2 separate regions of the Homo sapiens genome follow, and region 1 is linked to region 2. Evidence: fine-mapped expression QTL. Tissue or cell type: whole blood. Region 2 holds a variant in brackets; the other region holds the start of a gene. All regions are shown on one strand. Distances are from middle to middle.

Evidence for each region. PIP is the estimated chance that this variant, and not a neighbour inherited with it, causes the effect.
Region 1: UHMK1 starts here. The variant in region 2 is fine-mapped to the expression of UHMK1 in whole blood (TOPMed, PIP above 0.99).

The regions. Positions count from the first base shown.
Region 1 is chr1:162,495,725-162,500,956 of GRCh38, forward strand. UHMK1 (U2AF homology motif kinase 1) reads left to right here and starts at 2,094. Exons shown (of 8, transcript NM_175866.5): 1 at 2,094-2,544; 2 at 4,231-4,523; 3 at 5,189-5,232. The coding sequence starts at 2,277. RefSeq lists enhancers at 1,830-2,330, 2,065-2,144, 2,331-2,831.
Region 2 is chr1:162,523,258-162,528,489 of GRCh38, forward strand. UHMK1 (U2AF homology motif kinase 1) reads left to right here. Exons shown (of 8, transcript NM_175866.5): 8 at 1-5,232. Among named protein-coding and RNA genes, the nearest start is that of UHMK1, 28 kb to the left of the region's middle. The variant A/G (reference allele first, on the strand shown) is at 2,546.

The DNA.
Region 1 (5,232 bases), 28 kb before region 2:
TTCCAGGACGTTGCCATACCATTTGTAAATTGTAATGGTGCTGGTAAGAGTTTCCTTTAGCATGCTAATGTATTATAATTAGCATCTAATGAGTAGTAAGGACGACCAGAGGTCACCTTCACCACCATTTTGGTTTTGGTGGGTTTTGGCTGGCTTCTTTACTGCAATCTGTTTTATCAGCAAGGTCTTTGTGACCTGTATCTTGTGTTGACCTCCTATCTCATCCTGTGACTTAGAATACCTAACTTCCTGGAAATGCAGCCCAGTAGATCTGAGCCTTATTTTACCCAGCTCCTATTCAAGATGGAGTTGCTCTGGTTTGAACACCTCTGACAATCTGATGAGATTTTATGGTTTGTAGGCTGTGACTCCTCACATCCCTTAGATAAGAATTTGGGGCCAGGTGCAGTGGCTCACGCTTGTAATCCCAGCACTTTGGGAAGGTGAGGCAGGCGGATCACAAGGGCAGGAGTTCGAGACCAGCCTGACCAACATGGAGAAACTTCATCTCTACTAAAAATACAAAATTAGCTGGCATGGTGGCAAATTCCTGTAATTCCAGCTACTTGGGAGGCTGAGGCAGGAGAATCGCTGGACCCCAGGAGGAGGAGGTTGCGGTGGGCGGAGATGCCGAGATCATGCCATTGCACCCCAGCCTGGGCAACAAGAGCGAAACTCCGTCTTACCAAAAAAAAAAAAAAAAAAAAAAAAAATTGAGCAAGAGAGAAGACAGGTCAGAGTTTAGTCCTCAACCTCTCCTCAAACTTTCCACTTAGCACTACATGAACCATCTCATCTGGCTGGGAACTTACACAAAACCTGAAGAAAAGAAGATAGGGCCTATTGTCTGATACTAAGTTTTTGCCACACAATCAGAATAGATCTTGAAATAGAAAAGGTTGAATGACTGAAAAGTAAAGAAGGCTACATTTCTTACACACTCGAGTTTGTGGATTGAGATGCCTATTTGCTACATTTGTTACTCAATAAACGTTTGCTGAATGAATAAAATAATTGAATAAATAAATGAAAAATAAAAATTTGGAACAGATCCGTGTTTGCCCAGGGTGAATGCTTTTTGATGAGGGAGCCATAGGCAAGGTGGACTATGTTGATAAAAAGAGTTAAACTCTGTAAAATATTTGAAGAGATTTATTCTGAGCCAACTATGAGTGACCATGGTCTGTGACACAGCCCTCAGGAGATCCTGAGAACATGTACCCAAGGTGGTTGGGGTGCAGCTTGGTTTTATACATTTTGGGAGACATGAGACTTCAATCAAATATATTTAAGAAATACATTGATTTGGCCCAGAAAGGTGGGAAAACTCGAAGCGGGAATTGGTGGGGGGAGAAATGGGTCCTTCCAGGTTATAGGTAGATTTAAAATTTTTCTAATTGGCAATTGGTTGAAAGAGTTATCAATAGAAAGGAATGTCTGGGTTGTCATAAGAACTTGTGGAGACCAAAGTTTTGTCATGCAGATGAAGCCTCCAGGTACCAGGCTTCCAAGAAAATAGATTGTAAATGTTTCTTACCAGACCGAAGGTCTGTGTTGACCTTAACCGGAGAGGTATGAGGCTAGTCGGACCCCCACTTCCCGTCATGGACTGAACCAGAATTTTAGAGTGCCCTGGCCTGGGAGAAAGTCCATTCCGATGGTTGGCGACACGGGGGGCTTAGAATTGTATTTTCGGTTTACATCTAAAAGAAGAACAAAGGTCTAGGCTTCCAGAATCATGGGTTCTGGTGACCGTGGACCTGGAGGTGATGGTAAACTCTCTTTTTGTTCCTGGGGTGTTTTCCTTGGGATCCTTTCTATGAGAAATGTAGGCCGGGTTTTATTTTTCGGGTTCCTAGTGGTGAGGTAAGGTGAGGTGCCTCAACAAGAAAAAGGACCAGTTTTGGCTTCAGGTCTATGTGAAAGCGGTTAACACTGGGCCTGGAATGGTAGATACTCAATAATTAAGGTTACTTCTTATTCTCGGTTCTTTTTTCCAAACCTAGCGCGTCTAATCTCTTCTAGGCCCCGCCCCTTCTGAGCCCCCCCTCCTTCGGCCTGTATGATAGGCTCTTCCTCCATTTCCGGCTTCTGGGACTCGGGTGCACCACGGCTTCCGGTGTCATGGCTGCTTGAAGTCCCGGGAGTCGGTGAGGCGGCTGCAGGTCCCTCCCTGCGGAGCCGCTGGTCCGGCTGGCGGAGATGTGACCGCGGGCCCGGCCGGCCTGCCTCAGGCGTCGCGTCAGCTCCCGTGTCCGTGCCCTTAACCCACACCGATGGCGGGATCCGGCTGCGCCTGGGGCGCGGAGCCGCCGCGTTTTCTGGAGGCCTTCGGGCGGCTGTGGCAGGTACAGAGCCGTCTGGGTAGCGGCTCCTCCGCCTCGGTGTATCGGGTTCGCTGCTGCGGCAACCCTGGCTCGCCCCCCGGCGCCCTCAAGCAGTTCTTGCCGCCAGGAACCACCGGGGCTGCGGCCTCTGCCGCCGAGTATGGTTTCCGCAAAGAGAGGGCGGCGCTGGAACAGTTGCAGGGTCACAGAAACATCGGTAATTGCCGCTGTCTCCTTTCTCTTCTTGCCCAGGTCACAGTCCGAGCACACTCTTCCTCTCGCTGTCTGGCGTTCCATCTTCCTCCCCTTCTGCGGGAGAAGCGGGTTTAGCCCTCTTTATCACCCCATCCAGGCCCCTTTCCCCTTTCACTTTATTACTGTCTGCGGTATAGTGGAGTTGGTGGTCTGCTTTGCCAGGTGTCACATAGATGCTCAGTAAATTGTCTTGCTTCGAGTCTCATCGGAGAATGCCGCATTCATTAGCATACAGAAATATCTTTTCTAGTGAGAGGAGGCATGTCTTTGCTAGATTGTCGTGTCTTGTGTGGAAATTTTTGAATCTTTGCATACCAGTAGAAAATGGGAACTACGTCTGGGCCTTGTGACATCAATGCTAGTAACTCGTATAGCTCACCTATTATATCTTTAGTACGGATTTGGAAGAAATGATGCACTATTCCATGGGAGCCTTTATAGAAGTGTGAAATTTAGGAACACTATACCTTTGCTCTCTTGAGACTGTTTCAAGAATCAGATACTCAGAATGTAAGATATGTAATGATCACTGATGATTGATCTGTGAAAAGGTTTCATTTTCATTACACGACAGAAAGCTTATCATTAGTTATAGCTTTGGTTATTAAAGAAAAGTCTTATTTCCTAGCAAGTATGATGCATAGTTAATTTGAAGAGTGAGTTTTTTTATAATATCATTTTGGAGAAGAATTAACACTAGTGCTACATTTTTTTAGTTTACTAAATGGTCTGTTACTATAACCTTGGTATTGAAAAGGGAAAAATTTTGCAAGCCTAGGGACTTGCCTGATCTCTGCAAGATTAAAATTTCATCCGAAAAGTCTTAATCTCTTTGTTAGTATTTAGATTATAGAGAGCTGTTTATTTTTGTTTTAGTTTTTTTTTTTGAGACAAGTTCTTACTCTGTCACCCAGGCTGGAGTACAATGGCGAGATCACAGTTCACTCCAGCCTCCAATTCCTCCTAAAGCCATGCTCCTACCTCAGCCTCCCAGGTAGCTGGGACTACAGGCACGTAGCACCAAGCCTGGCTAATTTTTTGTAGAGAAGAGGTCCCCTTTTGTTACCCAGGCTGGTCTCCAAACTCCTGGGCTCAAGCAGTCCTCCTGCCTCGGTCTCTCAGAATGCTGGGATCACGGGCATGAGCCACCGTGGCAGACCTAGACTGCTGTTTTGGATGAAGAAGCAATGTTTAGTTTGGTTTTTGCGCATTGTGACATTCCTTTTAAAAGAGTTACTTAATATTTGGGTTTTTACTTTTAAAAATTTCTTTTTTTTTAAAGGACCTCATGATGCAACAGTAAGTTTTATTTATTTATATTTAGGTTTTTTACTTTTAATCATTTTTGCTTGGCACTCCAAGTTCGTGTTCATCACCAATGAGTACTTGGTGAAACACAAATTGAATAATTGTACCATATTTAGTATCTGTGAATGGTAATCAGCTGTTGTAGGCTGTCTCATCTTATTTTTATTAAAATAACCCAATTGCCAAAAGATCTTATTCATGGGAAAAATAAATTACAGTGGAAGCTTGCTCATCAAAGTTATCCTTATCTAGACTATCTCAAATTTGTACTGCAGTTACCTACTTTAGTAGTGACTTACTCTGAGTCTGATTTTTAAAGTATTATAATTTCTTTTTCTAGTGACTTTGTATGGAGTGTTTACAATCCACTTTTCTCCAAATGTGCCATCACGCTGTCTGTTGCTTGAACTCCTGGATGTCAGTGTTTCGGAATTGCTCTTATATTCCAGTCACCAGGGTTGTTCCATGTGGATGATACAGCATTGTGCCCGAGATGTTTTGGAGGCCCTTGCTTTTCTTCATCATGAGGGCTATGTCCATGCGGACCTCAAACCACGTAACATATTGTGGAGTGCAGAGAATGAATGTTTTAAACTCATTGACTTTGGACTTAGCTTCAAAGAAGGCAATCAGGTAAGAAATAACCTTTTCTTTTCTCTCGCAGTTTAAAATGTAGTGGTTGAAGCCAAATATTTTTAAATGACAAGGGTAGTTTAGTAGGGGCTTACAAGTCATTTTAACCTAAATTACTGAAATGCCAGGGGATGCAGTAAATCAAAAGAATTTCAGTGCCACCGTGTAAAAAAAGGACATAATGTTTGGGTCAGGTAGGAGGAGCCAGTGAAGCATGAGAGCTCTGGAATTATTAAAAGTACTTAACCTACATAGAATGGTTTTTTAAATTTTATGCGTGTTTGGCTAATTGCTGAGTTACTATTCCTGGTCTCTTCAGTGTTGGGGCTGTATCTCGTGGCAGAATGCATATGATAGTTCTGCCAAATCCTCTTTTCTCCATGGTTTATCATTTCTTTGCAGTGTCCTTATTATCAGCAGTGCCTAATAGGTAAGAGACAATCCAAAGAAGACTTCTTTATGAGCGCTATATGGAAATGTACAGCTTGCCTCTGAGAACTGCCCAGTTAATGAACCAAAGAATTATGGTAATCAAGGACTAAAAATTTTTAGCATTTAGCTTGGCAGTGGGTTTACTGCACTCTTAGGGAAGTAAATTCACTGTAGAGATGGATAGAAAGGGAGCAGCTTTTTTATTGGTTGTAATATTTACTCATCTTTTTTAGGATGTAAAGTATATTCAGACAGACGGGTATCGGGCTCCAGAAGC
Region 2 (5,232 bases):
TTATAGTGTGAATCCTGTGAGCTAATACAGTCTATACTTATTTCTTCCCTACCTGTTTCACATCCGTAAGATTTAAGATATACATTTTTTGAGAGGTAGTCTGTCTGATACAATGTAAATGACAAAACATAATTCCTGAGAGGCCCAGAACAAACTGGAGTCTAGCCTGGAGTTAAATTGAGACTTCTAAAATGATTGGAACAAAGACTAAGTTGTGCCAGATGTAAATCAACCCCTCTTTTAGTTTACTTTAGACTTTGTATTAGCTCATCTTTTTTGTAGTAAATCTATAGTTTTAAGGTTTCTCAAGATGTGGCTCTACCTACTATGATGAAAATTGAAGTGGGTCAAAAGAATTAGATGTACAGTGAAGGGAAAAGAAAAAAAATGGGCGAAGAGAGGGTGGAAAATAAAAGGATTCTTTTTTCTTCCTTTCTGTTTCTCGTATCCCTGCTCCCTTTTTCCTCCCCTTCCCTCATTCTTTGCCTCTATCCTTAGCTGAAGACAAACTAGAGGAGCAGCATCCCAGGTAGTTTGGCTTTTGACTGCAAGGTAGTTAAGAAAGGTGTAGATATAATGAGGTAGAAGTAGAAAGGAAGAAAAACTCAAAGAATTCTTAAAAGGATTCATAGCAACATAATGTGTCCCTGAGTAGAGGATGCTGCTATGCGTGAGTTCATGGACACAAGTTGATTACATGGTTTTTAGAATTATAATTATGGATTCTTCTTATTTCATGGTAGGTTGTCTTTAAAGATATAAAAATTAGGATGCCTTTATGAAGCACTGATTATACCAAAAAAAAAAGACAAGTTATATACAGGTTATTAATTTTTTTATTTATTTATTTTTTCCTAAGGAAAAAGTCTTCTATCTTTCCCTGCTGGAAGCCTCCTCATATTTCCTTATGTTTGCCATGCAGGTTGCTGAGAGTCCAGTTAGAATTTGCATTTTACAGAATGAAATACTTTACCCCATTCAAACAATTATTGTTTGACATTTTAGTTATTTATAATTGTCAAATTCAGGACTCTCCTTTAATGTTTATTATGAAACCAAATTTGGCATAAGGAGGCTGATTTATGAATTACCAAAGGGTCTTGTGGCATGTTCCCCAATACATGCCCTTAGAAGGAAGAACTATTATTTTTTATTTTGGCCCTTTCAGGAGTTGATTATAAATTGGTTTGTTTTCAAGTCAGAATTCAAGTGGGCAGAACCCGTATTGTGAAGACCTAAACTTTCCTAAATGTTCATATGGGTAGCAGATTTTGTGGTGATTAGAAACATCAGGTCCTTAAATACGATGAACATGGGATACAAAGGAATTCTTTATAAGGGCAAGTATCCTAAGTTAGCACATTTACTTTTCTCTCCCCTCCGCCCCCAAAAGAAAAATCCTTACAAATAAACTGCAGGTAGGCTTCTAAGCCTAGTCCTGCAGTATGCTGCTAACATCTTGATGCCAATCTTCACAGCATTCTTTGATTGTCATCTTATTGCTGATACATTCATACATATATTTAGTGCTTGACACTGTAGAATTTTGTTACAGAAGATGGTTACTAGATTTTAAGGGAGCTGAGGGAATAATTGATGAGCCTTGAATTAACCATGCATTTAATTAGATTTTTTGTTGTTGTTGTTGTTGTTTTGAGATGATGTCTTGCTCTGTTGCCCAGGCTGGAGTGCAGTGGCTCAATCTCGGCTCACTGCAACCTCTGCCTCGCAGGTTTGAGCGATTCTCCTGTCTCAGCCTCCCCAGTAGCTGGGTTTACAGGCGCTTGCCACCACACCTGGCTAGATGTTTTATATTAAAGCCAGAGAATTGAAAAAGAAATGCCTCCTGTGATTGAAATTATTTTATAGCTCTTAGCCCGTTCTACCAAAGATCACATTAGCAGATTACCCCTCCCTCCTGTGATATTATCTTTCTTAAACCTGAACCAAATATCAAAAGATACAAGTTTCATGATTAGGATGAAATATATACATAGGGATTTTGGTTTATTGAAGTTATTGAAAGACCTAGAAATTTTCTTTTTGAGAGAAAGGGTAAAGAGGTGAGGGTTCATGTCACTTAACCCCTACCCTTTTGGGCAAATTTTGTCTCAGGTAGTGTTTCATTCCCTAAATTAATACCTGTGCTTCCTTGCCTCTCACCTTCCCAGTTACTTCTTTGGGGTATTACTGTGGCACATTGTACACCCAGAAAAGGCACATACAGTGATTATTTTGTGGGAAATACTTGATTCTTTTGAAATATATTTGGAGGGGGTAGCTAGCTAGCCACTGTCAAAACTAATGCTGTATTTACAGGACAAAAACAAGTAGAGTTGGACACCTCAGTAAGAGACAGCATTAACTAAAAGTACTGACTGCCTTTTAAAGGAATTTTTAAAACTATTCTCTTGCAATAAGAGATCCGCATTTATTACCACTGGATGTCTTCCTTTTTTGTGGCCACCAATATAGCAGCTCTCTTTAGAGGGATTCCCTTTCTGCTATGCCTTGAGCCAAACTGGCTGCTTTTAGAACAAAAACC[A/G]TAAGTATGGTTTTACTCGAACTTCTCTTTGTTTTTATTGAGAGAAATATTGCCTTCTTTTTGGTACTCCAGCTGCTAAAGAGTGCTGAGATATGTTAAATTATTTTTTAAAAGAAAATCTCCAAATACTTATTTAACTTGTCTTCTAGATTCATGTTGCTTATATTTTAACTATTGAGCAAGTTTATTATAAGGAATGCTGCCATATAGAGAAAGCTGAAGAGAAACCATGGGCAGAAGGCTTTTTTCTGTCTTATTACACTGGACCTTCACTCTGGTAAGGGCATCAGTTACTTTTCTGGAATAAAAGGCGGAGTTAGAGCACTTATCAGATGCTGTTTCATGGCTTGTTTTAGTTAATTTATCATGCAGATAACTAACATTTGGGTATCTTTTTGTTTTAGGTCTTATTTTCTGACTGTTAGGCCTATCTTACACATAAGTTCTACTATCAGTATACTTGGCAGCATGACTTTTTTTTTTTTTTACAGTTAATTTAATGAAAATCAGCACCATTGTAAATGATAGTAATTGTAACAACATAGTTACTGGGTGAAGGAGTAGGGGAGACACTCAGTAACCATCTATTTACCTAGACACTTATGCAGGGGTACATGCTAGGTGGCTTTATTCAGATTCGGGTACATTGGAATCACATCATGACTTTGAGTCTGATGGCTGTGTAGATAAAGATTTAAGCAAGTGCCTTGTGTTTGCTGGAAAATATTAAAACTCATTTGGGTGAAAGCTTCCCAGATGATGATAATTAATAGCACTTCTGCCTTTTTCCTGGAGTAACTTTTAGATTGAGTCACATATGATAGTATAAAAGTCCAAAATTTTCTGGGTTTACCTTTGTTTTATTTTTCATATATATATTCACTGTCTGCCTGGAAATAGCCTTGGTTTACCTTATTTTTTTGTATATGTAAAACTATTCATATTTGATTTTATTCCAATATTATATATGATGGAAAAGCCAGAATTGTCTGGCAGAATTTAATTCTTCCTTGGATCTCTAGTTCTGTTTTTAATATCAGGTTCCTTCATCAAATTTTACTACTGTAGCTCTGTGATATAATTTCATTTCTTGTCAATTATGGTCACATATAGACAAGTACTTGGTCACAATTAGCTCAAAAGAATCCCCATTTCTTAAGGTGCTCAGTCAATCACCTTTATTTTGAGATGGTAGTTTTTCAAGTTAGTATTACTTACTAGCTTTCTTGATGAATATAAAAATGTTGTCTCCATCATACAGAGCTGAGCCTCTTGTGGTATATTAAGATAAGTCCCATTCTTAATCACAGAAGAACATGGATATTTTAGTTTTTGGAGTACCCAGAATTGTAAAGATTTTGTTTCATTTTGTTTTAGGATAGCTTCTCTGCCTAATACTATAGGATATGTCATGTTCGTTATTGTAGCCACCTCCCTCAGATGTTTTTCACTATTTTTAAATTATATAATGACCAGTAGATTCACAGTAGCATGTACTTGACAAGTGCCATGGATATTTAAGAAGAAGGTAAATAATTTTAATATTTTTTGCTGTAATTTTATAGGAGCAGTGGACTGTAAGAGAAATATCTATAAATCAGAGAGTATTTAGGAAACTTTGTATTTTATAGGTGGTCATTAAAGTGATCTTCAGGATATAAGATAGTTTACACAAACTTTATTCTCCTGATAGGAAATTTTTATTCATTTTCCTACCACTCAGCACTTTTGTTCTGCCTTGTACTGCTTATGAGGATTAATGTTTTAAATTTGCTTTATTTGTGCTTTTCAGAGAGTTGTCATAATTGTGGCAGTTGTGTTTGTGGCACTGTAAATGCTGAAATTCATGGGAAACTTACCAAATGACTGCTTGAGTGTTATTTCCCATTAAATTGGGTAGCTGTCACAATAACCAGAAGAAATCTTGTGGCCCTTTTGAAGAAAGCCATGTATGTTTTGTTACCTAGGTTCATAGTATTTTAATTTAAAGGCAAAGAGAAGCATTCTACTTATTTGTCTTATAAACCATTAATCGTTTTTTGTGCAGAAGAGAGCTTATTTTGTTATACTGCTTTGTATAATGGAAATAAGTCACATTCTGGGGGAAAAAAACTGGAATTGTTTGTATTTTGTTTTTTTGGGGGGGGATCTTTATGTGAAAAATCAGAGCTACTTGTTACCATAAGCCCTTACTATCAACAAGATAATTATTTGTAATCACTTTTTTATCCCAGGTTGGAATTGCTTTCCCCTTCTAAGTTATCTTCCCTTAATAATATTTATGATACCAGGACAGTGAGGGTATAAGAGCAAATGTAGTGAGGTATTCAAAAATCCTGCATATATGGACTCAAAAGTTCTTTAGTTATTTGAATTATATATAGCTATATTATTTTATTAGCTTGGGTTGTCAGAAGATTGCCAATTTTAAGAGTAAAGAGGAGAGAGATAAGTAATAAAAATAGAGGAGGGGAAGAAAATGGCTCCCTTACTGGTCTTAGTAATCTTCTATATAGTTAATGAGCTAAAAAATGATACTTAAAGTTCCAGGTTTGGTACCGCTAGCATAGAAACATTGCCTTTCCTACACATTCCTCATCATTGTTTCCTCAGAAAATTATTTTAAGAGTTTGTGAAACCAGATTAAATATCTATATTCAGTTTGGCCTAATTTTTAAAAATAAATA